4 linked regions of the Homo sapiens genome follow. The protein of the gene in region 1 interacts with the protein of each later gene in a pairwise test. Each region holds a gene or a part of one and is shown in the gene's direction. Other genes may lie near its edges.

The links. The genes of interacting proteins can lie anywhere in the genome.
Region 2: the proteins of ROCK1 (region 1) and POLR3C interact in binary tests that used the Homo sapiens proteins (3 or more experiments, as listed by UniProt).
Region 3: the proteins of ROCK1 (region 1) and ITSN2 interact in a two-hybrid assay, tested with the Homo sapiens proteins (one large-scale study listed by BioGRID).
Region 4: the proteins of ROCK1 (region 1) and SMAD2 interact in a two-hybrid assay, tested with the Homo sapiens proteins (one large-scale study listed by BioGRID and IntAct).

The regions. Positions count from the first base shown.
Region 1 is NC_000018.10:21,037,356-21,043,269, reverse strand, and holds part of ROCK1 (rho-associated protein kinase 1), read left to right. Parts: intron 1-560; coding exon 561-705; intron 706-1,034; coding exon 1,035-1,173; intron 1,174-3,706; coding exon 3,707-3,798; intron 3,799-5,914. UniProt on the Homo sapiens protein: Protein kinase which is a key regulator of the actin cytoskeleton and cell polarity.
Region 2 is NC_000001.11:145,836,383-145,841,506, forward strand, and holds part of POLR3C (DNA-directed RNA polymerase III subunit RPC3), read left to right. Parts: intron 1-111; coding exon 112-192; intron 193-432; coding exon 433-484; intron 485-635; coding exon of another isoform or gene 636-638; exon of another isoform or gene 639-1,109; intron 1,110-1,153; coding exon 1,154-1,214; intron 1,215-1,673; coding exon 1,674-1,824; intron 1,825-3,507; coding exon 3,508-3,609; intron 3,610-3,733; coding exon 3,734-3,783; intron 3,784-4,539; coding exon 4,540-4,689; intron 4,690-5,124. UniProt on the Homo sapiens protein: DNA-dependent RNA polymerase catalyzes the transcription of DNA into RNA using the four ribonucleoside triphosphates as substrates.
Region 3 is NC_000002.12:24,294,230-24,299,353, reverse strand, and holds part of ITSN2 (intersectin-2), read left to right. Parts: intron 1-539; coding exon 540-689; intron 690-3,549; coding exon 3,550-3,690; intron 3,691-5,124.
Region 4 is NC_000018.10:47,920,353-47,925,476, reverse strand, and holds part of SMAD2 (mothers against decapentaplegic homolog 2), read left to right. Parts: intron 1-5,124. UniProt on the Homo sapiens protein: Receptor-regulated SMAD (R-SMAD) that is an intracellular signal transducer and transcriptional modulator activated by TGF-beta (transforming growth factor) and activin type 1 receptor kinases.

The DNA.
Region 1 (5,914 bases):
TACATATGCTTCCCCAGTTTGTATTTGTACAGTCAGCTTTTGTATGTTTCTTTTGTAGTTTCAAACATAGTTAAATAGCTATTTTAGTAGAAAATAATGAAGTCAGTGTTTATACCAATATGTTGTAAAATGCCCTATCCTATGAACTCCCCAGTGTATTTGCACTGGCCTGTGTACTTGTTCTCAGCAGTTAAATGGTTTCATGATATTGGCACAACTTGGGGAATAATAAATGTGGCAGTATGTTTTTCTAGTGAGCATTATTACAAAATAATCACTGGTGTGTGTATATATGTGAATACACATATAATGTGTGTGTATATGCATTCACATGTATACACATACATACATTATATGGTATATATGTATATGGTGTGTATATAGTATGTATATATATGATTAAGCTGTGTTAATTTTTGTCAGGTTTCCATTCAGTTTTAATATATGATATTTTATAGCTCAAAGATTTGGAGTCCCATAGGTAATATTAATAAGAAAGTCATTTTAAATAATTGAGACTTTATATCCTAATTCAAAATTTGACCTGCCGCGCTTTTTAGGAAGGCATGGTACGATGTGATACAGCGGTTGGAACACCTGATTATATTTCCCCTGAAGTATTAAAATCCCAAGGTGGTGATGGTTATTATGGAAGAGAATGTGACTGGTGGTCGGTTGGGGTATTTTTATACGAAATGCTTGTAGGTGAGTAAGGAAGATTTTATGTCTCTCTATTACAGTTGTTCATCTCAAAACTTGCCACTTGGCTCTTTCTAATATATTTATTATATTAAGCAATCTTGATTTTATTTGTGGGTAATAAACATGATCCAAACCTGCTTCGTATGTGTTTTTAAAAGCATTTAGAGGCTTAGAGCAACTTTGTGATGTGTTCTTTTATATATTAGGTGTATGTTTTTAGTTTAATACATACCTAATAATCTTTTTAAACGGGTAACTTTGACTCTTCCTTTGAAACTGACTTTTTAAAAATGTATTTCATTTTGCTTTTGTTTTCTTTATCAATTTTTCAGGTGATACACCTTTTTATGCAGATTCTTTGGTTGGAACTTACAGTAAAATTATGAACCATAAAAATTCACTTACCTTTCCTGATGATAATGACATATCAAAAGAAGCAAAAAACCTTATTTGTGCCTTCCTTACTGACAGGTAAATAATTTTAAAACTGAGCCTGTATTAATTCTGAGGACTTCTCATCTTCTGCTCCATTTTTAAGGTCCATATCTGAGCTTCTACATGTAAATTGTTAGAATATAAATGACAGTGAAACCTGATGTAATTTTATGATATTCTAGATGTCTTTTGTAGATCTCAACTCACTTATCATACCTAAGAAATTGTGATAATAATACAGTCTTGGCTGATGGCTAAACTAGATGACTTTTTTCTTTTATTGTTCAATTTTTAACTTGGTTAATTATAAAAATTACTGTGTATTTTACTGAATCTAAAAAAATTTTTTAACATAACATCTCTGAAATTAGAGTACATCTCACAGTCAATGGTATGAGTTGGGAGCATCCTTTTTCATAGTGGTATAAAAACGGTGATACACCTTATACTTTAAACCATTTTAGATTTGATGATGTATGGTATATGGTTGTTGAAAGAGTCAATAGTATAAAGCCATTTTTAAAAGTATACTATCTTTTTTCTTCTAGACATAATAGTTGGTGTTCCATCTTGTAGATCCAACAAGCATTTTAATAATAATGTCTGTCTGCATTTTTGAAAGAAAAATGGCATATTATATATACCTTTGTGGTTTACTTTTGAAATTTGAAAGTGAACCAGATGTATTAGTAAGATTATATTTAATGTTTATGATTGTATATTGTTAAATATTAGGGAGACCTAGTACTTTTAAATATGTTTCAAGTTGAGATTTGCTTTAACTTGTCTCCCTTCATTATGTCCTTTAGAGCTTGAAGTATGGTTTTTCAAATGTTTACTTTTTTTTTTTTTTTTTTTTTTTAAATAGAGACAGGGTTTTGCTCTGTTGCCCAGGCTGGTTTCAAACTCCTGGGATCAAGTGATCCTCCCACTTCAGCTTCCCAAAGTGCTGGGATTACAGGCCTGAGCCACCCATGCCTGGCTAATTTTTACATTGATTGATTGATTGATTGAGACAGAGTCTCACTCTGTTGCCCAGGCTGGAGTGCAGTGGCATGATCTCGGCTCACTGCAACCTCCACCTCCCGGATTCAAGTGATTCTCCTGCCTCAGCCTCCCAAGTAGCTGTGACTACAGGTTCCTGTCACCATGCCTGGCTAATTTTTGTATTTTTGATAGAGAGGGTTTCACTATGTTGGCCAGGCTGGTCTTGAACTCCTGACCTCATGATCTGCCTGCGTTGGCCTCCCAAAGTGCTGGGATTACAGGTGTGAGCCACCGCACCTGGCCAATTTTTACATTTTAATATAAAGCATTGTATTATGCTGTTTATTAGGTGCTAGGGATATAGTAGTGAGGAAGATACAGAGCCACTTTTCTCAAATACCTCATAGTCCTTTGGGGGAATTAGATAAGCAAATCAGACATTTATAGTACACACAGCTAATTACCATGAGATAAGTACCATGTGCCGGAGAACCATGGAGAGGTTTTCTAATCCAGTTTGAGAGTTAGTGAAAGCTTCTTGGAAAAATTGTCACATGTCTAAGCCAACTTATCTTTTAGCTTATGCAAAAACTTAGAATTTAGAGTATTTTCTTTATTTATAAGCACTGTACTAGGGAAAAAAGGTGCTAACTTTCTTTTTCCAATTCAGCTAAAATCACATTTTTAAAAACTTTTTGCTCACCAAAAAAGAGGCTGGTATCAGTAACTTGTCCAGTGAAAGCTCTGAATTCTGTGGCAGTATCAAGAATTAGTAGTCATTGGCTTTTGAATGGTCAGAAATAATTAATAGATTATAAATTGGAAGTTCAAAATTTTAAATGTGTTTCTGGAGGTTTTTGGTAGCATCTGGTATTGCTGCCTAAGTAAAGTTTTGGTTGGGGAAAAAAAAGCCTAACTTTACCATTGTAAGAAAAAAATAACACACACACACAAAAAACTGTCAAGAAAATGCATGGTGCTTTATTCATTTTGCTAATGAAGTAAGGTGGTGATTAATCTGGATTTTTGTTGTCAGTAGAAAAGTCATGGGTGTTTTTTGTAGTTATTCTTTAGTTTTCTTTTTTTTGAGACGGAGTCTCGCTGTGTTTCATCCAGGCTGGAGTGCGGTGGCGCAATCTCAGCTCACTGTAGCCTCTGCCTCCCGGGTTCAAGCGATTCTCCTGTCTCAGCCTCCCAAGTAGCTGGGACTACAGGCGTGTTCCAGTACACCCGCTAGTTTTATATTTTTAGTAGAGATGGGGTTTCACAGTGTTGGCTGGGCTGGTCTCGAACTCCTGACCTCAGGTGATCCACCCCACCTGAGCCTCCCAAAGTGCTGGGATTATAGGCATGAGCCACCATGTCCAGCCTTTCTTTAGTTTTCTTTTAAAAAAATTCTTTAATGTTCTCAATCTTTAACATATTTTCTATTTGGGCTGATACTATGCTGACAATATAATTTCACCTTAGAACTATATTTGTCGTCCTACACTGATTTAATATCCTGCCCACAAATAAACCTGGACAGGTTATAATAAGATCTTAAATGATTGATTACTTTTCTCCTTCTGTCATTATTCAGGGAAGTGAGGTTAGGGCGAAATGGTGTAGAAGAAATCAAACGACATCTCTTCTTCAAAAATGACCAGTGGGCTTGGGAAACGCTCCGAGACAGTAAGTTTTTTTTTTTCTTTCATATTTTAGTGAATATTTGAAAGTAGTTGTGGTAGTTTGTTGAAACTACATTGCTAAATATTTGTGTGTATCTGATGAAAATCAGAAGCCACAAATACTATATGGGAATTGTCCTAACCTATTAATTTGATAATATTGGGCAGATTATATTGTTACTCCTCTTATGTCCCACGCAGGATACCCAGATGAAATATAAATGTAATGGATTTAGGCTCACCAGTCATAATTTTACATTTGATCTTTGTTGAATTGTTCATTTTAGGCGTTAGTTATCTTATTATGGAGGTGGTCAATAAGTAGTAAGTAATGAGATTAAAATATATGTTTTTGTGAGAAGACAAGTTATTCTCTTGTTTTTATTAAAACCCAAAATATAAGAAGGTTCTATTATTAATTCCAGAATTCAATTTAATTTTATTTATGAGTTTATAGGATATTGTGATATACTTGATTCCATCAGGCTTTTGCAGCTGGCAATTCAGAAACAAAAATGTATTGTATAAGAAACTAATTTTCAGTCAGTTTAGAACACTTTCTTACTTTTTAAAAAAAGTTAAAATTACAAGATGATTCACAGAAAACTCTACAACATAGCTGAATCAAAATTATCATGACACCAAAGGTTCTCATCATCTTCGTGGATTTGGGAGGTAAAGAATTCATCTTTCCCCTGCTGACATCTTAGGATTTTTTTCCCTGTTCATCTATCAGAGAAAGGATAATGTATCTCAGTCCCTAACTTGCTGCCTTAGCAATAGCAGTGAATAGTAACAATGGAAATGAACTCAGCTACCTTATTTTAGAAAGTTACACAGTAGTTATTTGTCTTAAGGACTGCCTATCTAGTTGAGACAGTGAAGGATAGTACTTTGCAGAGAGATGGAAATCTTGTTAATTCTGATGAAATAAATCATGTAGGTTTGCTAATATTAGTGAAGCATTCTAGTTATCAAATATTTTAAAAGAACAATTGTATTGCCTTCAAGTACTATAGCACAGTACTTACATTGTGCTGAGCTATAAAATTGTCTAAGGAGGAGAAAGGGAAAATAAATCCTCTGGAAATTAAGAAATTATACAACAAAGAACATCATTGAATGACCAGCTGTCTGAGAAGCTGTAAGAGCAGCTTGACTTTGGGAGAATTTTATTAGCAATTATATACTAGGAAATAAGGAACTTCCTCCTCTTCAGAATTAAATGTGACATAATTATTATCTTCATGCTGCAAGTGAAATTGTTGCATGACAAAGAGATGATCAGGGAGTGAGAAATGGTTACATCAAAACACTTTTTGTGTTTTTATTCAGGTTATTCTCTTAGTAAAGTTTAAGAAGGCTGAAGACGTACAAATATTATTATAAATCTGAATAAAACTTTGAAGGGGACTGAAGAAAATACAAAATAATATTTTGTATTGCTTTAAATTCTTTTTCAAAGTTAAGCAATGCATAAATAATTATAGAATAACCACACAATAAATCAACCGCAAAAGTAACAAGGATATTTTTCCTTTTATGTATTGAAAAACCGATCACTTGAAAGAGGAGGTAATTTAGTCAACAACTATTTACTGAACACCTGTTGTATATTGATCACTGTTCAATTTCAGACACTGGGAAAACAGCAGTGATCAAACCACCAAAAGTTTTCTTTCTCCCTTCTGGAGCTCATAGTCTTATGGAATTAGGGAGTCCAGATCAGTGGCATTTTATTATATTGCTGTACCTCCTTCATAAAACTACTTAAGATCTGCATTATCTATGGTTTTATTCTAGCGTGGTTAGATTTAGCATACTTAAAAGAATTTTGGTAGTTTTTCCTAATTCTAAGAGGTCCTGTTTTGTGGTTATTGGAAAAAACAAAGAAAAATTGAAATCTGTAGAACTTATTGTTCTTTGCTTCCCTTCCCCTCTTCCTACCCCTTCTTTACTTCCCACCCCTAAAATACCAAGAATTCTTTTATTCTGAACTGACCTCTTTGACCTGCTAAATTTTTAAAACTTATGTAACAGTTATAATTCCTTTTAATTTTTTTGGGTTTCCATTTTCCGTGGCAAAATTGCTTTCTAATACAAATAATAGTTTTTTTTGG
Region 2 (5,124 bases), on another chromosome or scaffold:
GTGTTCGGATTACAGGCCTTAGCCACTGTGCCCGGCCTAAAACATCTTTATTTCAGTAAGGTCAGGAGTTCTAAGTTCCCAAACCCATTTTAAGTGTCCTTTGCTCCATAGATCTTCAGATCCCTACCTGTTGGCTATAACATCTCTAAGCAAGTTCTTGATCAGTATCTCACTCTGCTGGCAGATGATCCAGTAAGTCTGTTTTTGCTTTTTTTCTTTTTTCTTTAGCCTGTACTGTTGATAATTTATTTCTGCACTGATACCTAGTGTCATCCTCCTGCAGAGTTATTCTCTACCTAGCCAGCCCAGACAATTTCTCCACATCATTTGATAGGAGGGCTACCTGCTGCAGACTTTTGGTCAGATTTGTTCCATTGGAAACAGAATCACTGGACTTTCCGTTCAGTTAACACTCTCTCTTTTTCTTAATAGCTAGAGTTTGTTGGAAAGTCTGGCGACAGTGGTGGAGGAATGTATGTCATCAGTATCCTTACCAGTTATTTCCTTAGAGTCAGGCAGCCTGACCTATAAATCAGAATGGTGCCTTAGGAAAGAAAGATTTGGTAATGTTTATTATACTAAATAAATTAGAAAATTGAAGTAATTGTTAAATAAATTTTTCTATGAATTTTCAGTGAACTGCATTGATGATGAAGTAAAAAGAGGCCAGGCATGGTGGACTTTGGGAGGCTGAGGCAGGTGAATTGCATGAACCCAGGAGTTCAAGATCAGCTAAGCAACATGGCAAAACCCCATCTCTACCAAAAATACAAAAACTAGCCAGCTGTAACGATGCATGCTTGTAGTCCAGCTCCTCAGGAGGCTGAGGTGGGAGGATCGCTAGAGCCCAGGAGACAGACGTTGCAGTAAGCTGAGATCATGCCACTGTACTCCAACCTGGGTGACCCTGTCTCAAAAAAGAAAAGGAAAAAGGACTTTTAATCAACCAAATTTTAGTTAAGCAAAACCCTTACTTAAACACTTGTATTAAAGTTTTGGAATATTTATGTACCATGACTGAAACCATAAATTATAACATGAAAAACAAAATAGCATTTAAAATTTAATTATAAATTAGAAACTTAGGAATAAAACTCAGATCACAATAACTAGGCCAAAACATTACTGAGTGACCTTAATTCTCTACATAAAGACCTCCATAAGGCATTAGCATCCCTAGCCACAGCCACTCTGGAGTCCGTCGTACAGGAGAGGTAAGGGGGACACTGGTTGGGTTTGGGATCACATACTTCCTATCCCCAGTGAAGTAATTTGATCATTATGTAAGCCACCAATATAACCACACCTTGGCATACTTTTCCCCATTTTTTCACTGGACTCCTATGGATCTCATGTAATACTGCTCTTTACCTTAAAATAACCTACTGTTTAATTCCTACCGATGCAAATTAACCAGCCTCCCTAAAGCCTTTGCTTACAAATGTAGGAACTGTGGCACTCAAATGAGTCAGCAGTTGGTGACTGCCTTATGATTAACAGCAGTTGGTGATGCCTTACCATCACCAACCTATGGAGCTGTAGAATAATTTTCTGATCACTGTTCCTGTCTGGTACTGGCTTCACACATGGAATAGAACAACCACCCCATCTATGACTGGGAACTAAAGCTGATCTATGTTAGCATGCCATTTGCTTTCTTCATTCCTTTCCAGATTTGGGTCTCGCTGTGCTAGAATATTCCGTCTAGTTTTGCAGAAGAAACACATAGAGCAGAAGCAAGTGGAAGACTTTGCAATGATTCCTGCAAAGGAGGCAAAGGATATGCTATATAAGATGCTCTCAGAAAATTTCATGTCACTCCAGGTAACCAACCAAGGGCGTAATAATTGCCAACCAGCAAAGCTGGCCTAGGGTGAGAGAAGCTTCTTAGGCAAACATACTGAACCCCCAAGCAAACTCTATATCCAGCTCTGAGACAGAAAAACATGATTCACAGAGACATAGCGAGCACTTGGAGGATAATTTGGGGCCTTAACTGCCCTAGTGAGAAAGAGGTGGCCGGGCACGGTGGTTCGCGCCTGTAGTCCCAGCACTTTGGGAGGCCAAGGTGGGCAAATCACTTGAGGTCAGGAGTTCGAGACCAGCCTGGCCAACATGGTGAAACTCCGTCTCTAATAAAATACAAAACAATTAGCTGGGCCTGGTGGCACACGCCTATAGTCCCAGCTGCTCGGGAGGCTGAGGCAGGAAGGAGACTCTCTTGAACCCAGGAGGGGGAGGTTGCAGTGAGCCGAGATCAAGCCACTGCACTCTAGCCTGAGCAACAGAGTGAGACTCTGTCTCAAAAAACAAAAAAAACAAAAAACAAAAAAGAGGCAGAGCCAGGACATCACCCCAAACCCACCCTGCCTTTTTTTCTCTTCTCATTTCTGTCCTTCCTTAAGCCTTAATTCTGTTATAGTTTAAATTTATCAACACATCTAACTGAGTCTTTGCAGGGCTATTTAGTAGAGCATATGAGTAAATAGATAGAATGGATTTTTGGAGTCAGATTACAGCTCTGCCTTACCCAGTTACATTAAGCAAGTTACCACGTTTCCCATCTATAAAACAGTGATGGATGGTGATAATAAAAATAATATGGTTGCCAGGTGCGGTGGCTCATGCCTGTAATCCCAGCACTTTGGGAGGCCTAGGCGGACGGATCACTTGAGGTCAGGAATTCGAGAATAGCCTGGCCAACCTGGTGAAACCCTGTCTCTACTAAAAATACAAAAATTAGCTGGGCGTGGTGCCGTGTGTCTGTAATCCCAGCTACTCAGGAGGCTGAGGAAGGAGAATTGCTTGAACCTGGGAGGCAGAGGTTGCAGTGAGCCAACATTGTGCCACTGCACTCCAGCCTGGGCAACAGAGCAAGACTCTGTCTCAAAAATAATAATAATACGACTTTTTGTAAAGATCAAATAGAATTTACCTGGCACATAGAGTTGTTCAGTAAATGTTAGTTGCCCTCCCTTTCTTCCCCAGCTCAGGATGCTGACAGTCAAATGGAAAAAACAGGGAAGCCCAGCTCTCCATTTGACTGATTATGACATAAACCACAAAGACTGGGCCGGGCACACCTGTATTCTCAGCACTTTGGGAAACCAAGGCGGGATGATCACTTGAGCCCAGGAATTCAAGACCAGCCTGGAAAATATAGTGAGACCATGTCTCCACCACCCCCAAAAGATTAAAAAATTAGCGGAGCATGGTGGTGCATGCCTGTAGTTCCGGCTACTTGGGGGACTGAGGTGGGAGGATTGCTTGAGCCGGAGGTGGAAGTTGCAGTGAGCTGATATCATGCCACCGCACTCCATCCTAGGTAACAGAGCAAGACCCAGTCTCAAAATAAATAAATAAAATAAACACAGGTACTGAATGACTAGGAAACAGGAAAGTGTAAGTAAAAAGGAGGGCTAAGTAACTCCAGGTAGAATGAGTGTGTGCTTTGCCAGTTCTAAAACAGTATAATTTCTGCTATTTTTCTTTCTATTGGACAAATAGGAAATTCCCAAAACACCAGACCATGCCCCATCCAGGACCTTCTATTTATATACTGTGAACATCCTGTCAGCTGCCCGAATGTTGTTGCACAGGTGCTACAAGGTAACTCAATCTGGACCTTCTCCCCATTTCCTCCATACGGTCAAGTACCCCTCATGTGCCCACTTCGCCCTGAGCTGCTGAAATAGAACTATGTGCATTCCTTGTCTGTCTTCTCTTTCCTCAGAGCATAGCCAACTTGATAGAAAGGAGGCAATTTGAAACCAAAGAGAATAAGTAAGTAACATTTTCAGTTGAGTTATTTACATCTTTCAAGATCAAGGGCCTCAGGGGAAATTTCCTCTAGAAATAGGAATCAATAGACGCTGGGCCTGGCAGGGTGGCTCATGCCTGTAATCCCAGCACTTCGGGAGGCTGAGGCAGGTGGATCACTTGAGGTCAGGAGTTTGAGACCAACCTGGCCAACATGGTGAAACCCTGTCTTCACTAAAAATACAAAAATTAGCTGGGCATGGTGGCGGGCACCTATAGTCCCAGCTACTCGGGAGGCTAAGGCAGGAGAATCACTTAAACCCAGTGAGTGGAGGTTGCAGTGAACCAAGATCACGCCACTGCACTCCAGCCTGGGCGACAAAGTGAGACTCCATCTCAAAAAAAAAAATTTTTTTTTTGAGAAGTAGGAACCAGTAGAGATAGCAACCAGTCTACTTGCATTGAATCATTGGCTTAGATTAGTGTAAATCATGCATTAGTCTACACTTTTCTAACATGCTCCCAGTGAAATAATTTTTCAGATTAAATTTGTGAGAAACGTACAAAAGCACCAAACTTTTAAGTGCAAATGAGAGGCAATAAGAATTTCAGGAGTGAAGTTATATTTCCAAATAAGTTTGTAGAAAATGTCCTTAGAAGGTGACATTATCTACTTTGATCAGGAAAATGGTAAAGGGTGGTGGGTAGTGCCTCAGACACACGTGGTAAGAGAATCTCCCAGGTTAGGGAAGATGTCTCAGAGTTGTGTTTGTTTGACAGGCGTCTACTAGAAAAATCTCAGAGGGTAGAAGCCATCATTGCATCTATGCAGGCTACTGGTGCAGAGGAAGCACAGTTACAAGAAATAGAGGAGATGATCACAGCTCCTGAACGTCAGCAGCTAGAGACCCTGAAACGTAATGTCAACAAGTAAGCATCATAAACTTCAGACCTGCATTTCAGAATACCATCCAGAAAATCCATTTTGACCTCCTGTAACCCTCCAGCTTAGCATGAGCAAACCTAAACTCACTGTCTCCTCCAGCTCACTTAACAGAATTTAATCCACCTATTTTTGTAAACTAGCAATTCTGAAGATGTTCTGAGCTTCTTCTCCATCACCATATACACTCTCTTGTTCATCAAGTACTGATAAATTTTTTTTAAGAGACGGGGTTTTGGCTGTGTTGCCCAGACTGGCCTTGAACTCGTAGGTTCAAACAGTCTTCCTGCCTCAGCCTCCCAAGTAGCTGGGACTACAGGCAAGTGCCACTGCGCTGGCTTAATTTTACTTGAGTCATGTGTCTCAAATCTGGCCTTTCATCTTGGTCCACACGCAGGCCTTCATCACCTCTTTCCTAGACC
Region 3 (5,124 bases), on another chromosome or scaffold:
CCAGATACCAGAATAGAGGGAAAATTATTCCTGTTAACATTTATATTTATGAAGTCATTCTGTAACTTATTAAGAGAAAAATGACTGTAACAAAAGGATGGTCTTCCAACCTGGGCAACATGGTGAAACCCTCTCTCTACAAAAAGTACAAAAATTAGCCAGGTGTGTGGTGGTGTGTGCCTGTAATCCCAGCTACTTGGTGGGGCTGAGGCAGGAGAATCGCTTGAGCCCAGGTGGTGGAGGTTGCAGTGAGCCAAGGTGGTGCCACTGCACTCCAGCCTGGGTGACAGAGCAAGATGCTGTCTGGAAAAAAAAAAAAAAAAAAAAGATCTCGTGAAGAAATGAGAAAATATGATAGATGAAGCCACTTTCTTGGAAGTCTTTAAGCCCATTAATAAAACTAGATTTGCCTAGCTACCCTTAGGCACTAAAGCCACTAAGTGCTAAACTCTGCCTGACTTTTATTGTTGTCTTCCCAGTTTTTGAATCGTGCAAAATTTTTGATTTAAAAATTAAGTATAATTCCTTTTTTTTTTCAGGCAGCAAAACAGGAACTTGAACGACAACGTCGCTTAGAATGGGAGAGAATTCGGCGACAGGAGCTTCTCAATCAAAAGAATAGAGAACAAGAAGAAATTGTCAGGTTAAACTCTAAAAAGAAGAATCTTCATCTTGAGTTGGAAGCACTGGTATGGCTGAAGTTTAAGTGAAATTTATCTGAATGATGATGGAGCTACCTGTTGAAAAATGTAATTGTGGGCCAGGCGTGGTGGCTCACACCTGTTATCCTAGCACTTTGGGAGGCCAAGGCAGGCAGATCAACTGGGGCAGGAGTTTGAAACCAGCCTGGCCAACATGGTGAAACCCCATCTCTACTAAAAAAAAAAATTAGCCAGCTGTGGGCTGGGCATGGTGGCTCACTGTAATCCCAACGCTTTGGGAGGCTGAGGTGGGTGGATCACGAGGTCAGGAGTTCAAGACCAGCCTGGCCAATATAGTGAAACCCCATCTCTACTAAAAATACAAAAATTAGCCAGGAGTGGTGGTGTGCGCCTGTAGTCCCAGCTACTTGGGACACTGAGGCAGAAGAATTGCTTGAACCTGGGAGGCGGAGGTTGCAGTGAGCTGAGATCGCGCCACTGCACTCGAGCCTGGGCAACAGAGTGAGACTCCGTCTCAAACAAACAAACAAAAATTAGCTGGCCGTGGTGGGTGGTGGTGGGTGCCTGTAATCCTAGCTACTTGGGAGGCTGAGGCAGGAGAATCACTTGAACCCAGGAGGTGGAGGTTGCAGTGAGCCAAGATCGCACCACTGCACTCCAGCCTAGGTAACAGAGTGAGACGCCATCTCAAAAAAAAAAAAAAGAAAAATGTAATTGTGTTTTAAAATCTCTCGTGAATTAGTTATGTCTTAATGTCATTAGTCACATTTTCATATAAACAGACTGTACAATATGGTTTACTGAGAAAAGGATAATGACTCAAAATGCTGAGAATTATGTTGTAGCATCAGTTCAGACACTGATGAACCATGTACTCCTGGGCAAGACATTTCCCTTCTCTGTGCCTCACTTTTCCCTTGTCTGAAATAAAGAGTTGTGTTAGTTGAGTGATTTTCAGTTTTCAGATTGGTCTCTGTAAGATGGTCTGAGGAGGACTAAGCAGAGGCAGGAGAGGGGAAGCTCGGGCAGCAGAACAGTGATTTTCTCTCCCTAATTCTTCCCACGCTTCACAACAGAGAAGCTTGACATTTATGTGCTTTATGTTTCTTGGGGTTTCACTCAAGATTTGCTTGGAAAAAAAAAGATTCTACTATTAAAAAGACAACTGATTTGAAACTGCTGACCTAAATGATCTCTTACAGTTCCAGTTCTGCAGGATTGTAGTTCTTAGCTAATACTGGCCACTAAGCAGTTTTTACCAATCAGATGTTAGAGGGTCAAGTTGTTAAAAGACTTTGTTTGAAATGTGTGGTGAGAAGGTATAAAAGATCTGGCACTATTCTGCCACAACCCTAGAATCCCATGAGCCTACCCTGATCATATAGTAGGGTTTTACAAAAATGCATACCTAGTCATGTAGTAGAGCCAGATTTAGATCTTGTGTGATCATAGTCTAACATTTTATTTGGTTGATGACTTGAATTACATTAAAAATTATTTTTTTAATCATCACAATATCTTTAGTCAGAAATATATTATTTTATTCCTTCAAATGGATAGACATACATACCACAAGTATTAATCATGCCAGAGTACTACAAAACAGTTGTAAAAAACTTTTAACTCTCTTGCACTATTTTTATATATATATATCATCTTGACTATATATAATGGGAAGAGACCTTAAGATTGATTGTTTTTCCCTCAAGAACTGGTGCAACACATGAAGCACAGTAACACAGGTGAATGTGCAGAGTCTGGAAAGGTCCAGAGCCTATACGTATCCCATGTTGAGGATAAGAATGTGAGCTCCAGCAGAGATACACATGTTCCTTTCAGTGTATGTATTTCAAATATGAAACAGTCTTCAGTAAAACTTTTCATCATCAGTAAGTTTTAACCCAGGATGTCATTTCCCCTCACTCCACTGTATTAGTTTGGTAGGGCTGCTGTAACAAAATACGATAGGCTAGGTGGCTTAAACAACAGAAATTAATTTTTTCACAGCTCCTAAGATCTAAGACCAAGGTTAGTTAGGCTTAGTTTCTTGTGAGGCCTCTTTTGGTGGCTTGCAGGTGGCCATCTTTCATTGTGTCCTTATATGGTGTTTTCTCTGAGTGTATTTTATCTCTGGTGCCTTTTGTGTTCAGATTTCCACCTCTAATAAGGACACCAGTTAGATTGGATTAGGGTCCACCTGTATGACTTTGTTTAACCTTAATCACCTCTTTAAAGGCCCTGTCTCCAAATATTGTCACATTCTGAGGTACTGGGGCTTGGGACTTTAACATATGAATTTTGGGGGACACAGTTCAGCCCATAACCCCCCATGTCACCCTTCTTCTTAGGTCCCATTGAGAATCTCTGCTATTTGTTTGATTTCTTCACAGAAGAAGAGGAAAAAAGGAGAAGAATATTAGTATAGAACAGAACTGTTGCCAAAACGTTCCTCCTGGGCACTGTTTTAATTAGAGGAAATTAGATGGCCATATTTAGGGTAGAAATAGAAGTTCAGAGAAGGTAATGCCGAGCATCACATGCAAACATTTATTCCTCTTCATCATTCTTTGAGAGTGTCTCTGATATTAATATTGTTAATTAATATTGTCTAATGCTGAATTCAGAAAAAAATTCAATGTGTTATGTTTCTGCTTTCCCATACTAACATATGGGCTCTTGCACTCTGAGAATGATGTGTTTCCCACTAATAACTCGAGTTAACAGACACAACTCTGAAACACATTCCACTTGGTTTTAGGCATTTGTTTCAGGATGAATATGAATGATAACTGAGATTTTAAAATTTAACTAAAAATATTATTCTCCTTGTAGAAACATTTTCTATTAGCATTTTATGTTACTATATATTTATATGATCTTCCTATAGAATGGCAAACATCAGCAGATCTCAGGCAGACTTCAGGATGTCCGACTCAAAAAGCAAACTCAAAAGACTGAGCTGGAAGTTCTGGATAAGCAGTGTGACTTGGAAATTATGGAAATCAAGCAACTTCAACAGGAACTTCAGGTAAGTCCTTCACTGCTAAATTGTTCTTAAACATGTACAATTAATAGTTCTTCTGGGCTGGGCACGGTGGCTCACGGCTGTAATGCTAGCACTTTGGGAGGCTGAGGCGGGTGGATCCCCTGAGGTCAGGAGTTCGAGACCAGCCCAGTCAGCAGGGCAAAACCCCGTCTCTACTAAAAATACAAAAAAATTAGCTGGGTATGGTGGCGCATGCCTGTAATCCCAGCAACTCGGGAGGCTGAGGCAGGAGAATCGCTTGATTCCGGGAGGCAGAGGTTGCAGTGAACCCAGATCGCACCACTGTACTCCAGCATGGATGATAGAGCGAGATTCCATCTCAAAACAAAACAAAACGAAACAGTTCTTCTAATAGAGTTTTGTTTTGGGGGTCAATAACCTTGAGTCTTTGATAGGCTTGTGATCTAAATACACGCAATCCTGTATACAATATCAGGAAGTCCATAGACCTACTAAAACTCTGCTAGACGTCTGGTTAAGTTTTGCTTAATATATATACGTAAGTGGACATTTATCACTTTGAGTTTTAACTCTTTAACAATGTTTATGCATTCTTAATTCATTACTTGCTATAACAAACGACCTTAGACTGGGTAATTTATAAACAACAGAAATTTATTACTCATAGTTCTAGAGACTGAGAAGTCCAAGATCAAGGTGTTAGCAGATTCAGTGTCCGATGAGGGCTTGCTGTCTCCTTTAAAACTAGTGCCTTCTTGCTGCGTCTTCACATGCAGAAAGGGTAAGGCAGTCCCTTCAACTTCCTTTATAAGGACAGTCATCTCATTCATGAGTGTGGAGCCTCCTAAAGCCCTACTTCTTAATAGTACTGCATTGGGAGTTAGGTTCCAACATATGAATGTTGGGGACATACCAACATTCAGACCATATCATACATTAAAATAAGGTTATTGCTACTAATTTTAGGAAATTTTGACTTAAAGTTATTCTTTTTAAAATTATGATGAGAACTTGAATATGTCCCTTGGGGTCCTGGTAATTCTCTTCCTTACTTGTGCAGTAGGGTCTGGTTCAATAATTACTATTTGCAGAATGGGGCTGTGGAAGCATTCTGCATCTCTAGAGTTCTCTTACCCAATTTCTCTTACTGCATGGACTGGCAATTAATCAGTCTTTTTGCTTTGTTACAGGAGAGATAAACAAAAGCCAAAAATATTTTCTGTCTGATTTAAACCTGCTTTCCTAGTTTTTAGTCCTTTTTATTTTTTCCTCCCTCTGTCACCCAGGCTGGAGTGCAGTGGCATGACCTCAGCTCACTGCAACTTCTGCCTCCCAGGCTCAAGCAATTCTCCTGCTTCAGCCTTCTGAGTAGCTGGGATTACAGGCACCCACCACCACGCCTGGCTAATTTTTGTGTTTTTCGTGGAGACGGGGTTTCACCATGTTGACCAGGCT
Region 4 (5,124 bases), about 27 Mb from region 1:
TTTGGTCAGATAGCCAGAAATATTAGGGCAATTCTGTGTCTTCTGTGCTTGCCTCACATTGTACAGTGTGAGTGGTTCTCCTTGGCTCAGTGGGTTCCTCTTATTTGTAACTGAGGCACATTGATAGGACAGGTGCTTGATGTATCTTTAGGTTTGTAGTCTTAAGAAAATAGAAATTCTGACGTGATTAATTCTTATCAAAGTTTGTGAATTTACTGTGAAATTGTCACTAATTATCCTAGGTAGCCCTGTCATTTTTCAAAATCTGGTTTTACATTGGCCTCAAGGCTGTAGAGTAGTGGAAAGCGAGGATAGACTTTAGTTGCTTCTGTTTAGTACACGTGTCTACCTTAATGTAAAAATTTGCATTTCCTTGAATAATCTACAGTGTCATACCTTCCCTCATTTTGTGGGGAAGGGGGATGTAGTTTCACATTTAATGTATTCAGTAGGAATAATCTTGGGTGAACCACTGGTATTCCATCTGTTCATTAGTTTGAGTCTCTTAAGTCAAAAAAGACTCTTGATCTGAGGAAGTAGCATAGTGAATCTGTGATCTTATAGTTTGCCTATGTTTAAAAGTAAACTACATTTTCATATGCTGCTTCAGCTACTTCCAGAAATTCTGTAGAGACATAATGGTTAAGGTCTTGTAAATATCAAGGAAACGTTCCATCCTCATCACGTCTTTCATTTCAGAATGTGAGGTGGTGAGGCCGGAGGCAGTGGCTCACGCCTGTAATCCCAGCACTTTGGGAGGCTGAGGCGGGCGGATCACTTTGAGGTCAGGAGTTTGAGACCAGCCTGGCCAACATGGTGAAACCTTGTCTCTACTAAAAATGCAAAAATTAGCTGGGTGTGGTGGCGGGTACCTGTAGTCCCAGCTGCTCAAGAGGCTGAGGTAGGAGACTTGCTTGAACCGGGGAGGCCGAGGTTGCAGTTAGCCGAGATCCCGCGACTGCTCTCCAGCCTGGGAGACAGAGCAAGACTCCGTCTCAAAAAAAAAAAAGAAAAAAAAGAAAATGTGGGGTGGCAAATCTTTTTTGCAGAGCCTCCTATATAAAATCCTCATAAATGATGCAGTGGAAGCTGGGCCCGTGAGCCTTCTGCCTTGACTTGAGTGAACTATTGAAACTCTTTTGTTGACTAGAGATACTTTATCTGTGGTAGTAAATGTAAATTTTCCTTATTGAGATCCACTTTTAAAATTCTTTTTTTTTTTTTTTTTGAGACGGAGTTTTGCTCCTGTTGCCCAGGCTGGAGTGCAGTGGTGCGATCTTGGCTCACTGCAACCTCCGCCTCCTAGGTTCAAGCAGTTCTCCTGCCTCAGCCTCCTGAGTAGCTAGGATTACAGGCATGCGCCACCATGTCCGGCTAATTTTGTATTTTTAATAGAAACGGGGTTTCACCATGTTGGTCAGGCTGGTCTCGAACTCCTGACCTCAGGTGATTCGCCCACCTTGGCCTCCCAAAGTGTTGGGATTACATGCGTGAGCCACTGCGCCCGGCCTAAAATTCTTAATAGACAGGTAGTTAGGTTGTAGTTCATGTTAGCTGATCAATTAAACTTTTTTTTAAAAAATGTTTTAGTTATCAGGAGGGTCCAGCTTTGGCCTGAGGTTGTGCATTGGCCATTTCTGCTCGAAACCAGTAGTAGTCAGACTTAAAACATGTGCACACCTGCACACACAGCAGCAACTAGAAAGCCTTTAGAGAGAAATATGCAGAATTTCGAAATGTAAAACAGATAAAAGGAGTAAAGCTGTTTTGTGGAAGGAAGAATAGGCAGTTGTTGAAGTCCTGCCTGATCAGTTTTCCTCTCATCCTCACCACCAGGAAGCCTTTGAAGCACAGCTGAAGAACAGTAGGTCTTGGAGAAATTTTTGCTGTAGACCTGCTCTATCTTAACAGGTAGCTGCCAGCCACATGTGGCTATTTAGCACTTGAAATGTGGCTGCTGTGACTGAGAAACTGAATGTTAAATTTTACTTAATCTAAATTTAGATAGCCATATGCAGCTGATGGCTACTGTATTAGACAGCACAGATACCCAAGGACATTTACATCATTGTATAAAGTTGTGTTGGGTGGCACTACTCTAGACTTTGCTTTAATTGAGCTTTTATGGCCTGAGGACCCCACTCACGTGAATTGACGTGGTATTAGTTGCTGCTTCAGAAGAGGGTCAGGATAGACTTTGGGAATTTGAAGAGCAATTAGAGTACTTGTACTTTATATTTGTGCTGATTTGAGTCTGGGCCTGTGTAGTGTTGTCATAGGTGCTTTTTTTTTTTTTTTAATAATCTGGGAATGATAAACCAATATGTAAGTTACGTGTTTACAAGTTGATTATAGAGTTGTGGATTCCACAAAACTCATTATAGGTGATAGGAATATAACTCTTAGTTAAAAAAAAAAAAATAAGTAGTCTCTTTACACAGCAGTCCCTATTTAATGTGGACTTTTGCTAAAATAATAATTTTCTTGAATTAAATTCAAGCTTGCATTAGGTTTGACAGTCCATAAAGTTGAACACATGAATGTTTTCTGTTTGCTTTTGTTTAAAAGACATGACCCATCATTCTCCATGGGGGCCGACCTAGGTTTCCAGTTGGCAGTGTCTTTCCTTACTAGCTTACGCTTTGGAGAGAACATAGTTGTAGTGAGAATTGAAAAATCTGTTTTTAAAAAATTGGGTTTTATGTATTTTAATTTTTTTGAGGTTTTCTATTATCCTGGTTACTAATGAATTATTTATTTGACTAAAACAGTTATACAATTCCAGGTCATTGATGCTGCTGTTTTTTTCTCTGCCTTGTAGTATGTTTGAACATAGATTGCTAAAAATCTCGGTCTCCACAGAGGATTGGTTCCGGGACTCTCCTGCAAGCACCAGAATATGAGAACGCTGAAGTCCCTTGTATAAAATGGTGTAGAATTTGTTTTATGCACATTTTATTGTTATTCTTTAAATCCTCTCTAGATTACTTAATATCTAATACAATGTAAATAGTTGTTATTCTATATTGTTTTAGAAATGATGAGAAAAAAGTCTGTACATGTTCAGTACAGTCACAGTTTTTTCCTGAATATTTTTTATCCATGGTTGGTTTAATCCATGTATTTGGAACCCACAGATAAGGAGGATTGACTGCACAGTGATTTTATATTATTTCTAGTGGGACCTTAGATGTTCTAGATGAGGCAGCACCATCATATTTAAAGTATTTTTGTTGAAATAATTAACTTTGGTTTTCTTTCTAAATAAAAATTCACATAGGTATTTGGGGAATATTTTGTATTTTCCTGCAGTTTGAAGATTTGAAATTTCTCTTCCCTCCATACCTTTTAAAAGTGCAATCTACTTTTGCTTTCTACATTTAATCACTATCTGTTCTTGACTTCAACTTTGCAAACATATTTTTTAACCATTCTTTTTCACATTTCCCTTCCTACTGGCCTTCCGGATGAACTGTCAAGTTTAGCAGTCTTTTCTCAGTGATCATACTTTCTTCAGTGTTTGCTGTTATTGTTTATACTGTCTTTATCTAAATTTCTTAAAATGACACAGACACAAGTTAGGCCCATTCTTCTTACTGTAAACAGATGAAAATGTTGGATAAAATATAAAAGTTTTCTCTTATGTATACAGTTGATCTTGAGAGAGAAAGTGCCCAGGTACTAGAAACTTAGAAAAATCAGTCAACTTTAAGGGAAGTGTGGCCTTGGGGGATTTACTAGAGATAAGATTCAGTAGTTGGGGCTGAGGTTATAATGCCATTCAATGAAAGGAGACAGAACTGTGGGAACTGTGTGCTTAAAAAAATTAAAAAATGAAAAGTGTTCTGGTATCATTGAAACATCTGGGGCTTCTTGGAGAAAGAAGCCTCAGACCTCTCTATGGAGGAACTGGAAAAACAGTAGGCTTTAGATGGACTTTAATATCACAGCAAGGCAAGGCAGGGTACATGAAAACATCTACAGCTGCATGTGGAATAGTGAATTTTTGTATACATAATCCATGACTGCAATCCAAAATTCAGGGATACCCAGTGAAGAGTCTCTTTACTGGTCTGTTCTTTGCCATACAGTTGCCTTTTCAAAGGCAAGTAGCTTTACTAGGTTTTTGTGTGGTGTTCCAGAGATTTTATGCATCTATGAACAATTTTGTGTGTATATTACCTTTTAGTACAAGTGGTCACATATGTCACTTAATAGTACATCTTATTTTGTGTCAGTATGTAATGAATGCCTTTCTTCTTTTTTGGAGTAGTGGGTTGTATAATATTCTTTTGTATGGGTGTCTGTAAATTTTTTTTTGAGACAGTGTCTCACTCTGTCACCCAGGCTGGAGTGCAGTGGTGTGATCACAGCTCACTGCAACCTTGACTGCCAGGGGTCAAGTTAATCTCCCACCTCAGCTACCTGAGTAGTTGGGACTGCAGGCGCATGCCTACCATATCCAGCTAATTTTTAAAATTTTTTGTAGAGGTGGGGTTTCGCCATGTTGCCTAGATTTGTCTTGAACTCCTGGGCTCAAGCGATTTGCCTGCCACGGCCCCTCAAAGTTTTGGGATTACAGGCGTAAGCCACTGTGCCTGGCCGGGTGTCTGAATATATCATCAGTCCTCTGTTGAATGTTTCCAGTCTTGTGGTATTAAAAACAATGCTACAACAAATAACTTCGTTTATATAGCATTTTGCTCCTTTGCAGGTATGTCTGTAAGATAGATTTCTAGGAGTAGTTCAAAGAATATCTACATTTGTAATTTATTTTAGAGAATGTACTTTATTCATTTTTTCGAATAACACATGCACATGGTATAAAAGTCAAGGAGAACAAAATAGCAAATACTGAAAAAAGTAAGCCTCCTTTACATCTCCTACCTCCTGCTGCCCAGTTGTGCTTTCCAGAAATGTAACCACTGTTACTAGCTTTTCGTTTATCCTTCTAGAGTTGCTCTGTCCAGTATGATAGCCACTAGCCACCATGTGGCTATTGAGCTCTTGAAATTGAGATGGACCACAAGCATAAAATACACACCAATTTTCTAACAGTACAAAAACAGAATGTTAAATATTTCAATGGTTTTTAATACGGATTGCGAATTGAAATAGTATTTT